Homo sapiens: one gene and its partners. The protein of the gene in region 1 purifies or fractionates together with the protein of each later gene. This does not show direct contact. Each region holds a gene or a part of one and is shown on either strand. Other genes may lie near its edges.

Region 1 (5,484 bases):
AAAGCCCAGGCTTCAACACTATGCAATATAACCACGTAACAAACTTGCACTTGTACAAAATAAGCTTAAAAACCAAGAGCTTTTGAGTCAGTATTTGACTTATGTAAAACAGGATTCTAACCATGTAACTTGGGGATTGAAAACAATCTTAGAGTTTATCACTATTTTGTTGTGATAGTTTTCAGAAAGGAGAAAAAATAGAATTTAAAAAGATTGGTAAATATTCAATTTCAAATGATGTCATTTCGGCTATTTAGGAGGTATTTATTTCCAGTGTGTTTTTATTAAGTCAAAACAACTGGGAAAACAGCCTATCAATGTACTACTTTTTGTTCCTCTGTTACTTGACAAATGTCATTTATTCAATTTATTTCAAAATAAGTCAGTAAATCTATAAATATAATTTCATATGCCTTGATTGTGATATTTATACAAAACTCACACATATTAATGTTTATATATTCTAGGACAAAAACAATTAGAAGACAACCTATTATCAATGGAGGAATAAATGTAGAAATTGGCAATCCATCTTATAACATGTATGAGGTAGATCATGATCACAACGATGGAGGTCTTTTAGATCCTGGCTTTATGATAGACCCAACAAAGGTAGTATGTCTTAAGATAATGGGCAGTGAGCACTAACATTCTTGAGTCGCATCTCTGTTTTATGGTTCTGAATTTCACCAAGTTTTTCTGTTATCTGAAGTTAGAATAAGGGACTTTAGGATGTATTGAATGATATAGCCTCTTCTAAAGAGAAAGTACAATTATGGACTGCATTCACCTGAAGCTGAGTGTAACACATCTTAGAAAACACATATTTATTTGCTCAGTTCTTTTATAAACATGTTTTTATATGTTTTTTATTGAAAAATGATTCATTATCTAATTTTGTTTACATAAAGCAAACGAAAAACTCATTTAAAAATTGTTTTAGTATTGATATCACACAGCAAATTGTTTAGGTCTTCTTCAGGGGATAGATAGATATATAGATAGATAAAGGTCTATTATAAAGTAAAGCTACTGACTTTCAATGTTGAAATATATGCAAGGAGAAGACCAATACATGCACAGCTTCTAGAAATATGGCTGAAAAGTAGTTTGGTGAGACATTTTCTTTTCTACCCACTTCCTCCCAGTATTCCTTACAGTGTGGTTCTATGGGGTTTTGGTTTGGTAGGAACTGGATACTTACAAGATAGTTTTGTTTTCATCACTTCAGACATGGAATCCTTCTTTTAATGTTTTTTGTTTTAATTGATACATAATAAGTAGGAAATCAGTACATTGAAGAGATATCTGTACTTCCATGATTTTTACAGCATTATTCACAATAGCCAAGATATAGAATCAACCTAAGTGTGCATCAACAATGAATAAAGAAAATGCTATTCAGCCATAAAAAAGAAGGAAATCCTGTCATTTGAGGCAACATGGATAAAGCTGGATGATATTGTCATATATGAAATAATCCAGGCACAGAATGACAAATACCACATGATCTCACTCACATGTGAATCTATAGAAGTTAATATTGAAGTAGAGAGTAGAATAGTGGTTACTAGAGGGTGGAGAGGGGAGGAGGAAGGAAAATAGGTGTTGTTCAATGGGTACAAAGTCACAGTCAGATAAGAGGAATGGGTTTTGGTGTTCTGTTGCACAGTTAGGTGATGGTGGTTAACAATATTGTATTGTATATTTAAAAATAGCTAGAAAAGGATTTTTAATGTTCTCGCCACAAAAAAATAACTATGTATGAGGTGATAGATATGCTAAATACTTTGATTTTTTCTGCAATGTATACATGTATAAAAACATAACAAAACACAGTATCTCATAAATATGTATAATTCATGTAAAATAATGCTCTAATCAAATGTGTTGAGGTATTAGCAAATCTAGATACACAGCTTAGTGTAAAAATCTTGGTCAGTGTATTTTTTAAATATAAAAGAGTACAGTACTTTATTATCAAAATAAGTATGTTGTTTCCAATAATGTTTAAATGATGAGCCAGATAAGCTGTGTCCTTGGACTTCTTTGTAATTAAATCACTTTTGAGAAATATTTTTCTATCTGTCATAATATCCTTACTAGTTTAAAACATTTCATTGATACATATAGCCTGACAATCCACAGCCTTTTAAATTTAAAAATATTTGTTAGTTTTTATTACTATAAGCTGAGGTTGGCAACTTTTAAGGGAAATAGCTAAATGATACAATTATCCAGTTAAAGTTGTGAAGATTTACTTCAGTGAATTATCTGAATATTCTTTCTGATAATTTTAGAATATTTTTTCTCTAAATTAAGAGTATCAATTTAGTATTATGAAACAATTTTTCTTGGTTTATTCACTTATTTATTGAATAGTTATTTATTTTTCTGACTTACAAAAGTTACTTCATCAAAATGCACTTTTACATTGTAAATATCCAATGTGGCCAATCTACATTCAAATTATTTTGCAATCACAGTCATTGGTGTTCCTGAAGAATCTGAATAGGATCCCACATATTCAGTCTAGTTCTGAACCCATGATTAGGCTTTCTAAGCCTAAAATTGATGCTCAACTATTCACTTCTATGAAAATCAATCTTTTCACATGGATACATTGTGTACTATCAGAGAATATTATATTTTTCTAATTAGACATAATTTTATAGTTATTAAAATTCACTCCTACATCTGAAATTTTTCAAGGAAAAAGTCTTGGTAACCTTACATTTGATATTTTCTGCTTTAAAATATCACAGAAGTGGAGACATGATACATATTTTACACATTGCTATTGATAATCTATTATATCTATGAAGGAGAAAGACAAATAATAGAGTTCTGAAATTCTTTGCATTTTTCTTAGGAATAAAAATATAGTATTCATACATATAACAGACTAATGACGATATACTTTACACATTTTTCATATGAAGGAGGGTTATTTTTTCCTCATCATTTTTATTTCTAGTGATAGAATTAATCCAATTTTGTACACTTAAAGAGAATAGCTTTTTACACATTCAAAAATTTTCACATTTACTCTAGGAAGATAAAACTATGTTTCAGTGCCCCCAAATATATTTTAATGTACTTAGAACATAATACTCAAATATTTACCAATTGGATGACTGAATAACCAAAATTGCATCAAATATGACTTAGATGACTGATTCTATCTGGATCCTGATATTTGAATATAAATGTGAATTGTTGTCAAATGAGTAACTACAGAAAAAAACAGCTAGTTCTAATAGGTTTAGACAGTAGTGAGAAACAAAGGGCCATATTGAAGCAACCTTAATAATCATATGAATTTTATAGAGCATTCACTTTGTTACAAGCGTTTGATATATGCATGGTGCAATCAGTATAAATTACATTACATGTGAAGAAAAATTTTGTAGAACACTCATTTCTGTTATTCTCAAAGAGGGTAAAATTTCTAGTTCAATGGTATCTTATAATCAAAAGGATTGAAAGTACTTAATGCAGTTAATAAAATTGATTTGACTATGGGGGTAACCACAGAACAGTTTGAAGAGTTTAAAAGAGATAAATATGTACTAGTTTTATCTTCAAATTCATGCCAATTCTTACTTGGACTATTCTTTATATTTTCTGAATAAGACTTTTGTGAGAGAAATGTCTACCTATGAAGCAAAGATCCAATATTAATATTGGATCTTTAATAATATTAATATTGGATATTTTAAGTTGTTTTAAGTTGTTAAAGCTAACATGAACACACTGTAAATGGTGTAAGGCTAAAGGGTATTTTTATGTTATTTTTATGAATTAACATGATATGTATCGATGAAAAGTGATTCTATAATATTAGATCAGAAACTAAAATTTTCTGTTTATATACAGGCCAGGTACATAGGGGGAGGACCCAGTGCTTTCAAGCTTCCACACACAGCGCCGCCCATCTACCTAAACTCTGATTTGAAAGGACCACTAACTGCTGGGGTGAGAGAAGAATATTCGTTATTTCATGTCCGTTTCATCACAGAACCCTCACAATCAAAGACTAATTACTAGACTTAGAGGCTTGTTTTTAATTAAGTTTTTAATTAACAAGAGATTTCAAAATAGCATTTAAATTGGGGGCTTATGTTATGTGTCCTGTCTATGCAAGATTACATCTAAAACATTATTTTAGGCAAGCCATTAAGTAGAAATATCTCTTCTACTGGATTTGGAAATGTTATTGTCCCTTTACAGTGAACATGAGTATTTGTTATTCTTAGCAAAGAAGCTCTAGCCAGAAATTAAAACTGAATAAACTTTTGATTTTATTCATTTCCTCTCATAGTGGTTTATTTAATATATACAAATTTGACGTGCAGTTAAATAGACTATACTTTAAAATGTGTCATCATATTGAGAAATTACAGACGGTCTAACAAAACCACTCTCAAAAACATGTTTCAATTAAGTAACTGGTGTTTAGAGAAAGCTGTTCTGTCTAAAGTTACATAGTTCATTTTAAGCAGAAGAGGAATAAAAATATGCATTATCAAGATTCCTAGGGATGAGAATTCTCTCCCTTATCGTCTTTCCCATCAACTGTTTTCATCCTCATTTTCTATCATGTTTGTCTCAATTGCATGGCTCAAAGATTATAATGTTTCCTTGTTGTAACTAAGATTTAATGTACTGTTTTTGGAAAGACGAAACAAAAAATAAGGAAAACAAACACTAGGCAAAATTTTCTTGGGATAAACTGCAATTTGTTAAATAGTGAACATTGTATGTATATGTTTTCCAACTCAAAGAGGTCAGCTGCTGCATGCCTCTAATTCTACTTCAAAATGCTATGTTTGTGAAACTTAAGATGACTGTGTACATCACAATTCTTTGAAAAAGTCCAAAAATATTTCTAATAAGTACACACAGGTTGTTTGAGGCAAAAATATTGCTTTAAAAATCTGATACACTAATGCATTTCTTTACATTTTTGTTTACTTGTTTTTAAGTTCATGTTGAAAAATTATAAGCACCAAACAAATGTTTTTCTGAAAACACATCTTACTTGCCACGGATAGGCTTGTAATAGCAATAAGGGGGACAACACAAAAACTGAAAACATGACAATTTAGTTTCACATTTTATGCTTTTATAATAAAGTCTCAGTGAACATAGCTTTTACAAAGATTTTTTTCTGGCTTTTTGTATATGGCAAAGCTCCTCTTAGGTTCACAAGTTACTTGCAAAATGTAAAATTATGTTTCATTTAATACCATGCTTGAGTTGAGTAAAGTCTGTAAATGTAACATGTAAATAACCTTTAAATCATTACTATTTAATAAATTAAATGTATTGCATATAAATATTGTTACGATTAGGAGATGGACATTCTAGGAAGTAAATAATTAATGTGGCCAAGACCAGTAATAAAATTATATTTATTTTTTTTCTCCTTCAGCCAACAAATTACTCCAATCCGGTATATGCAAAATTATATATGGATGG
Region 2 (3,500 bases), on another chromosome or scaffold:
TACTCCTATTAACCAAGAAGATTTAATTGAGCTATAGTTTTTATATTTTTATTGTAGAGATAATACATTTCATATGCCTTCAAACTGTACTTTAAACTGTACTTTCAAACGATGCTTGCCCTTTTCCCCAGTTCTGAACCTCCTAATCATGGCTTTCAGATATGGCCTTTTCTTCTGTTCTGATTTAGAAAATCGAAAATTGAACTGCTTCATAAAGCACTAAAGGAGTTTTCCATTTATAGGATTGCTCACCTTCATTTTAAGTAATAAGTATTTCTTTCAATTACTTTCTCTAAATAAATATAGATTTTTGTATAAGTCTATTAAAAATAGTTCCTTATACCTATTCATTATAGAAAATTTGAAACATATAGATAATAGAAATTAGAGAAAAATCATCTATAGTTTTATAACCTAAAGATGACTATTGCTAAAAATTAGGTGAATTTTCTTCTATATTTTAATAAGATGAATTGCTTTTTGAGCACGTGTGCTCTTACAATTGTATTCTTACGAGTGACGTATTTGACTACTAAAAAGTTTGATTTTTGTATGCGTCAAAAAAAGTAAGGGCAAACACCAAATGTTATATATTTATATATATATAAATATCTAATATATATAATATATAAATATATAATATAAAATATATAATATATAAATATATATTATATAATATTATATAATATATAATATATAAATATATATTATATATAATATTATATAATATATAATATATAAATATATATTATATATAATATTATATAATATATAATATATAAATATATATTATATATAATATTATATAATATATAATATATAAATATATATTATATACTATATATAATATATAAATATATATTATATACTATATATAATATATAAATATATATTATATACTATATATAATATATAAATATATATTATATACTATATATAATATATAAATATATATTATATACTATATATAATATATAATATATACTATATTATATATAGTATATTATATACTATATTATATAGTATAATATAGAATATATTATATATTGTATATAAGATAATATATTATATATTGTATATAAGATATAATATATTATATATTGTATATAAGATATAATATATTATATATTGTATATAAGATAATATATTATATATTGTATATAAGATATAATATATTATATATTGTATATAAGATATAATATATTATATATTGTATATAAGATATAATATATTATATATTGTATATAAGATATAATATATTATATATTGTATATAAGATATAATATATTATATATTGTATATAAGATATAATATATTATATATTGTATATAAGATATAATATATTATATATTGTATATAAGATATATTATATATTGTATATAAGATATAATATATTATATATTGTATATAAGATATAATATATTATATATATATTATAAATATGTATATTTTTATATATTATTATAAATATATATATTTTATATATATTATTATAAATATATATTTTTATATATATTATTATAAATATATATTTATATATATTTATATATAAATTTACATGTGTTAAAAATATGATTGTGTTCTTGTATTCTTACAATTGTATACGTTTCCCATTTCCCACTTAATATGAAAAAAATACACTCATATGTAATGTTCTTAGAGACAACTTTAAGATGTTATTTTTAATGGCTGCATGGTAGTCCAGCTAGCTAGTAAGTATACCATATTTTGCTTAGCCAGTCACCTACTTTTAGACATTTGACTCATTCCATATTTTTGTTATTATAAATTCCATCAGGATGTATATTTCAGTACATTAAAGTTTCCTTGCATTTATGATTATTTCCTTAGAATGAATTTCCAGTGTGGAATTTCTAGGTCAGAAAACATAAACAGCTTAGGATTCTTGATATATACATGATCATGAGATATTTTCCCTAAATGGTTATTCCAATTTACATGCTCACCTGTAATGCATCAGTGTCCATTTCACCACACCCTCACTAGAAGTGGGTATTGTAGTTAAGAAAATTTTCCCTTGACATTTGGCCTGTTATTCTTTATTTTATATTTACACTCTATCTCTTTATTTTCCACATTTTATATTCCTTTGGTTAGTGACTGTCATTTTATATGGTTGTTAAGCTGTTGTATTTCCTCCCATGATTTGGCTTTTTGTGTATTTTTCTCATTTAACCAGTTGAATCATACTTTTTTTAAACACACTCTATGTGTATATATATATATGTGCACTAATCCTTGATCTATTGCAAGGTATCCTTTCGAAGTTTGGTGTTTGCCCTTACTTTTTTGACACATACAAAAATCAAACTTTTTTAACACATTGTAAATTTATATATATACTAATCCTTGATCTGTTGCAAGGTATGTTTTCTAAGTTTGGTGTTTGCCCTTACTTTTTTTGACACATACAAAAATCAAACTTTTTAGTAGTCAAATACGTCACTCGTTTTCTTTGTGTTTGATTTCTTCCTTGGCTAGAAAGTCCTTTCCCCTTGAGATATGTCATAAAACTTCACTGCAGTTTTTGTTTTAAATTACGGTTTTGTTAGTTTACATTTACCTCTTTAATTCCATTTGGAGTTGTATTTTGATGTGGATAAAAGATCTAATTTGATTTTGTTTCCAGATAGCTAGCAATTGTCCTAATATAATTTATAAATACAACTTCCATTCTTCATTGATTTGCTAGCCGACTTTACCATATATTAAATTCTTATATATAACAGTTACTGTTTCTGGACTATCTATTTGTCTCAATTGATCCATTTATTCTTGCACTGATAGCACTATAGTATGATAATGTTTTAATATATTTTAAAAATTATTTGCTATTCTTATCTGTTGGTTCTTCAAAATGAAATCTAGAATCATTTTATTAAGTTAAAAAAAATTCATTGGACCAAATGTTTTAGCTCTCACATGCCAGTGAGAACACATGATATTTGTCTTTCTGTGCCTGGCTTATTTCACTTCACATAATGACTTCCAGTTCTATTTACATTTCTGCAAATAACAGGATTTCATTCTTTTTAATGGCCAGATAGTATTCAATTGTATATGCATAGCACATTTTCTTTATCCATTCATCTGTTGCTGGACTCTTCTATATCTTGGCTACTGTAAATAGTACTGTGATAAATGTATGGGCGCAAGTATCCCTTTGATATATTGATTTCCTTTCCTTTTGATAGATACCCTGTAGTGGGATTCCTCAATCATATGGAGATAGAGAGTAAAATGATAGTTACCAGAGGTTGGGAAGGGTGGAAGGCGATGAAGAGAGGTTGGCTAATGGGTACAAACAGACAGTTAGATAGAAGAAATAGGTTCTAGTGTTCAGTCGCACAGTACGGTGACTATAGTTAACAATATCTTATGTATTTTGAAATAGCTAGAAGAGAGTACTTGAAATGTTCTTACATATAGAAATGATAAATGTTTGAGGTGATAAATATCCTAAATATTCAAATCCCCTG
Region 3 (3,500 bases), on another chromosome or scaffold:
AAAGAAAAACAAAATAAAATCTCACCAAAAATAAAATTTTGGGAAACTAAAAACTGCCTTTCTTCCCTTATCTTTAGCTTCCACATTTTTGTCAGGAAACTCCTCTTAACTGCCTAAAACAGGCTTCCAACAATGAATGTTTTTTAATTAAAAAAAATCCCATTTCAAATAGAATGATTTTATTTTGCATGCCTGTTCGTTACCTGGTAGGCCACAGTAATTCTTCCCATCTGTGTTGGTTGCAACATTTCCAAATCCCTGTTTATATGGATCCCATTTCCTGCCAAAGTCAACACTACCGTCTTGACGGTTCTGAATCACTGTCCATCCTTTGGTTGACAGAAACAAAAAGAGCATATATTAACCAACAGCAAATAATGTCACTTTGAAAATAATATCTGAATCCCCTGTCCATTCCATTTAGTATATATTTGGTGCTCTAAAATAGACACAATAAGGAAATAAATATGAGAGGTAAACTTGTAAAATCTTTGGAAACTGCAAGTGCTTTATCTTACCCCAAATTGTGAATTATAGATATTTTATAACTTTTTAAATATCAGGTTGAATTCCACATCAAATTACTCTTTGTCAGCTATGTTAGATGTTAGAGCTAAGTCTTGTTTCCTGGCTTTTTAATTAATTTTTTTTTTTGAGACAGGATCTCACTATCCTCTGTTGCCCAGGCTACAGTTCAGTAGCATGATCAAGACTCCAGGTTGTGGGCTCAGGTGATCTCCCATCTCAGCCTCCTGGATAGCTGGGACTACAGGCACATACTACCAACACAGCTGATTTTTTTTTTTTTTTGGTATTTTTTTTTTTTTTGTAGAGTTAGGGTCTCATTATGTTGCCCAGGCTAGTTTCAAACTCCTAGGCTCAAGCTATCAGCCCACTTTGGCCTCCCAAGGTGCTGGAATTACAGGTATGAGCCACCACACCTGGCCTTGTTTCCTGGCATTTTACGGTATCCAAATAATTACAGATCAACAGGTCAACAACTGTCGAAAGCTTACCTCCATTTTCTGTATTCATGTCACAGTATACTCTATACGGTTTGACAGAACTGTCAGGTTGAATGAGATACATTTCAGATGTTTCACCTCCTTTCCTGATAATTTCCTCACATTCTGCAAATGTAAGACAACATTATGTTCAGGGGTTTATGACATAATTACTTTGTATTTAGTCACCAATTCTTTAAAATAACATTACATAAGTTACTAAGGAGTGTGTTATTATAGACCTTTGAAAATAATATAACAAATATTAGATTTTCATTTTACTTTAGTAAGTCCAACCCAGTTTTGAGGACGTTTATCTGCTAAGAGGATGAACAAAGCTCTTCTCCACCTTTTGTGTCCTGGAATATCCATGAGCTCCCAGAACACACAAAATGGAGAAACTTCTACATCTATCTGTGGTTCTGCCATCTGTTCAAGCCAGTACGCAGATGCACACATCAGCCACCCCTGGGACTACCTGTGCCCCATCCTGCTCATCAAAACCAGCAAATGCACCAGGCCAGTCCAAAACACAACTGGCTAAGGATATTTTTATGATGTACTGTAATGTCATTATGATCTGTTGGGAAAATCCACTTAGCATTTTTGTTGTTGTTGTTGTTCTCTTATTTTTGGTGTGTGAGTTCTTCTGGAACTCTCTAAAAATATGTTTATGAATCAGTTACCTTTGCCAGACACCACAGGAATATTGCAACTGACAGTGCATGGGGTGCGACAATATTCCATTTGAGCTGAGACATCAGATTCTAACTTTTGTATTTTGCTTCTCAGGTTTTCCAGGATTGAACGAAGCACACGAAGGTTAGTTGGGATATTGCTATTCACAGTCTCATCTATATATAATTGGTGCTTTTCCAGTTCTGAGGAGTACTCATTGACTACATTTTCATTATCTGGAAAAATGAAATTATGTAGAAATAGTTAGCATTTTTGCCTCATAAAACTAATGTATTTAACTATACAATTTTGATTTTCTGAGAATAAACTATTAAACACTGAGCTATCACCAAGCAGTTATGATATATAGTCATATTTAGTGGAAATGATTTGGCGCATGACATATACAAATTAACATAAATCCTAACCACCATACTAGTAATTTACCATAGGTATACGCTAAAGATTGTGTCCAGTAATAAATGAAATAGGTTGTTTATTTCTTTGGTGAGGGAAAAGAGGAGAAAGCAGTATTGGGGTCTTCCATCTGAGAAGTTCAATCTTACAGAGTGGATATGCTTGATTTATTTATCCATTTCACATAAGTATAGCAGAACCTTGAAATTTATAAGATGTCATGATTCCTTTGATTTCTTTGAAAAATTTCCAACTGTGGGTATGCTACTCACTGAGATGCCTGTGCCAGGCTCACGCACTAGCTGTTTCCTGACCACCAAGTCAACAGCACTCAACATTCTGACCTCAAGATTCACAGGTTAGGTGTCATTATCCACAACACAATTGAATATATTATGGATAACTCTCTCATTCAAAACCTCAAATGTTAAAACTATAAATGCTAGGGGTTTTTTTCCACTCTGTAAATATTATCTTCTGAGTCACAAGTTTCTTGTATACTTAAAATAAGGAGTCATAGTAGAATTTTTCATAGAAAATCACACTTGCTGATGTCAGACTGGGAATAAGAGCTGAATAGTGCTTATCTGGCAAGTTGCAGGGGAAGGTGCCCAAAAGCGTATGAATGCTATTCACTAACCCAGAAATGTTAATCTTCTCACAACCATGCATTCTCGTGGCAGTCTAACGGTTCCAATTTTATAGCTGAAAATCGAATGGAAAGCACAAGGATATCTACCTTTTACTTGCTTCTGCCTCTTTTGCCACAGGTCTTTCAGCAAATACATGTACTGAAAGGAAGAAGAGGAGGTCTGGGAAACAGCTTCCACATTGTTATTTAACTCATCAACACTATTTCTGATTGGCCTTTCCTGTTGTAGCAAAGCCTCTTGCAACTGACATCCTGTAGGACACAACACCCCCTAAAAACAAAGAAAATAGCAGGCATTAGATGAAGGATTTGGGTCATGGACATTTGTTAAAATAGCACATAGGAAAATTCAGCGATACGATTAGCCAACATAAAAATTTATTATTTGGTTTTCTGTAAGACCAGAAATTCGAAAGTCATCATCATACTCTCATAGAGATTTAAAATATTACTTACCCCAGAAAAAATATAATTGGGCTATGAAAATTTTACCAACTAAACAAAGGCAGTGGCAAAATACAAATGGAAAGGTGGCACCCACATATCCTAATTTGAAATTTTGGGCCCAGACCAAAGAAAACAAGAAAGAAAGCCTAAACCAAAGGCCCAATATGTTTATGTTTTGAATTTTATTTCCAAAATAAACAAACAAAATAACAGTGATGGTAATGTGGGTCAGTGAAACATTAGCAGACTGCCATGACTACAGGCTTTCTCTGCATGAGAGAGCCACCACTGCAAGAAACATC

What was found. The genes of interacting proteins can lie anywhere in the genome.
Region 2: the proteins of LRP1B (region 1) and SH2D1A purify together in Homo sapiens (affinity purification with mass spectrometry, with the first as the bait; one study listed by BioGRID). This does not show direct contact.
Region 3: the proteins of LRP1B (region 1) and FGB purify together in Homo sapiens (affinity purification with mass spectrometry, with the first as the bait; one study listed by BioGRID). This does not show direct contact.

What each region holds. Positions count from the first base shown.
Region 1 is NC_000002.12:140,233,280-140,238,763, reverse strand, and holds part of LRP1B (low-density lipoprotein receptor-related protein 1B precursor), read left to right. Parts: intron 1-467; coding exon 468-612; intron 613-3,879; coding exon 3,880-3,978; intron 3,979-5,437; coding exon 5,438-5,484. UniProt on the Homo sapiens protein: Potential cell surface proteins that bind and internalize ligands in the process of receptor-mediated endocytosis.
Region 2 is NC_000023.11:124,349,563-124,353,062, forward strand, and holds part of SH2D1A (SH2 domain-containing protein 1A), read left to right. Parts: intron 1-3,500.
Region 3 is NC_000004.12:154,566,011-154,569,510, reverse strand, and holds part of FGB (fibrinogen beta chain isoform 1 preproprotein), read right to left. Parts: intron 3,023-3,500; coding exon 2,839-3,022; intron 1,919-2,838; coding exon 1,691-1,918; intron 1,131-1,690; coding exon 1,017-1,130; intron 330-1,016; coding exon 204-329; intron 1-203. UniProt on the Homo sapiens protein: Cleaved by the protease thrombin to yield monomers which, together with fibrinogen alpha (FGA) and fibrinogen gamma (FGG), polymerize to form an insoluble fibrin matrix. Fibrin has a major function in hemostasis as one of the primary components of blood clots.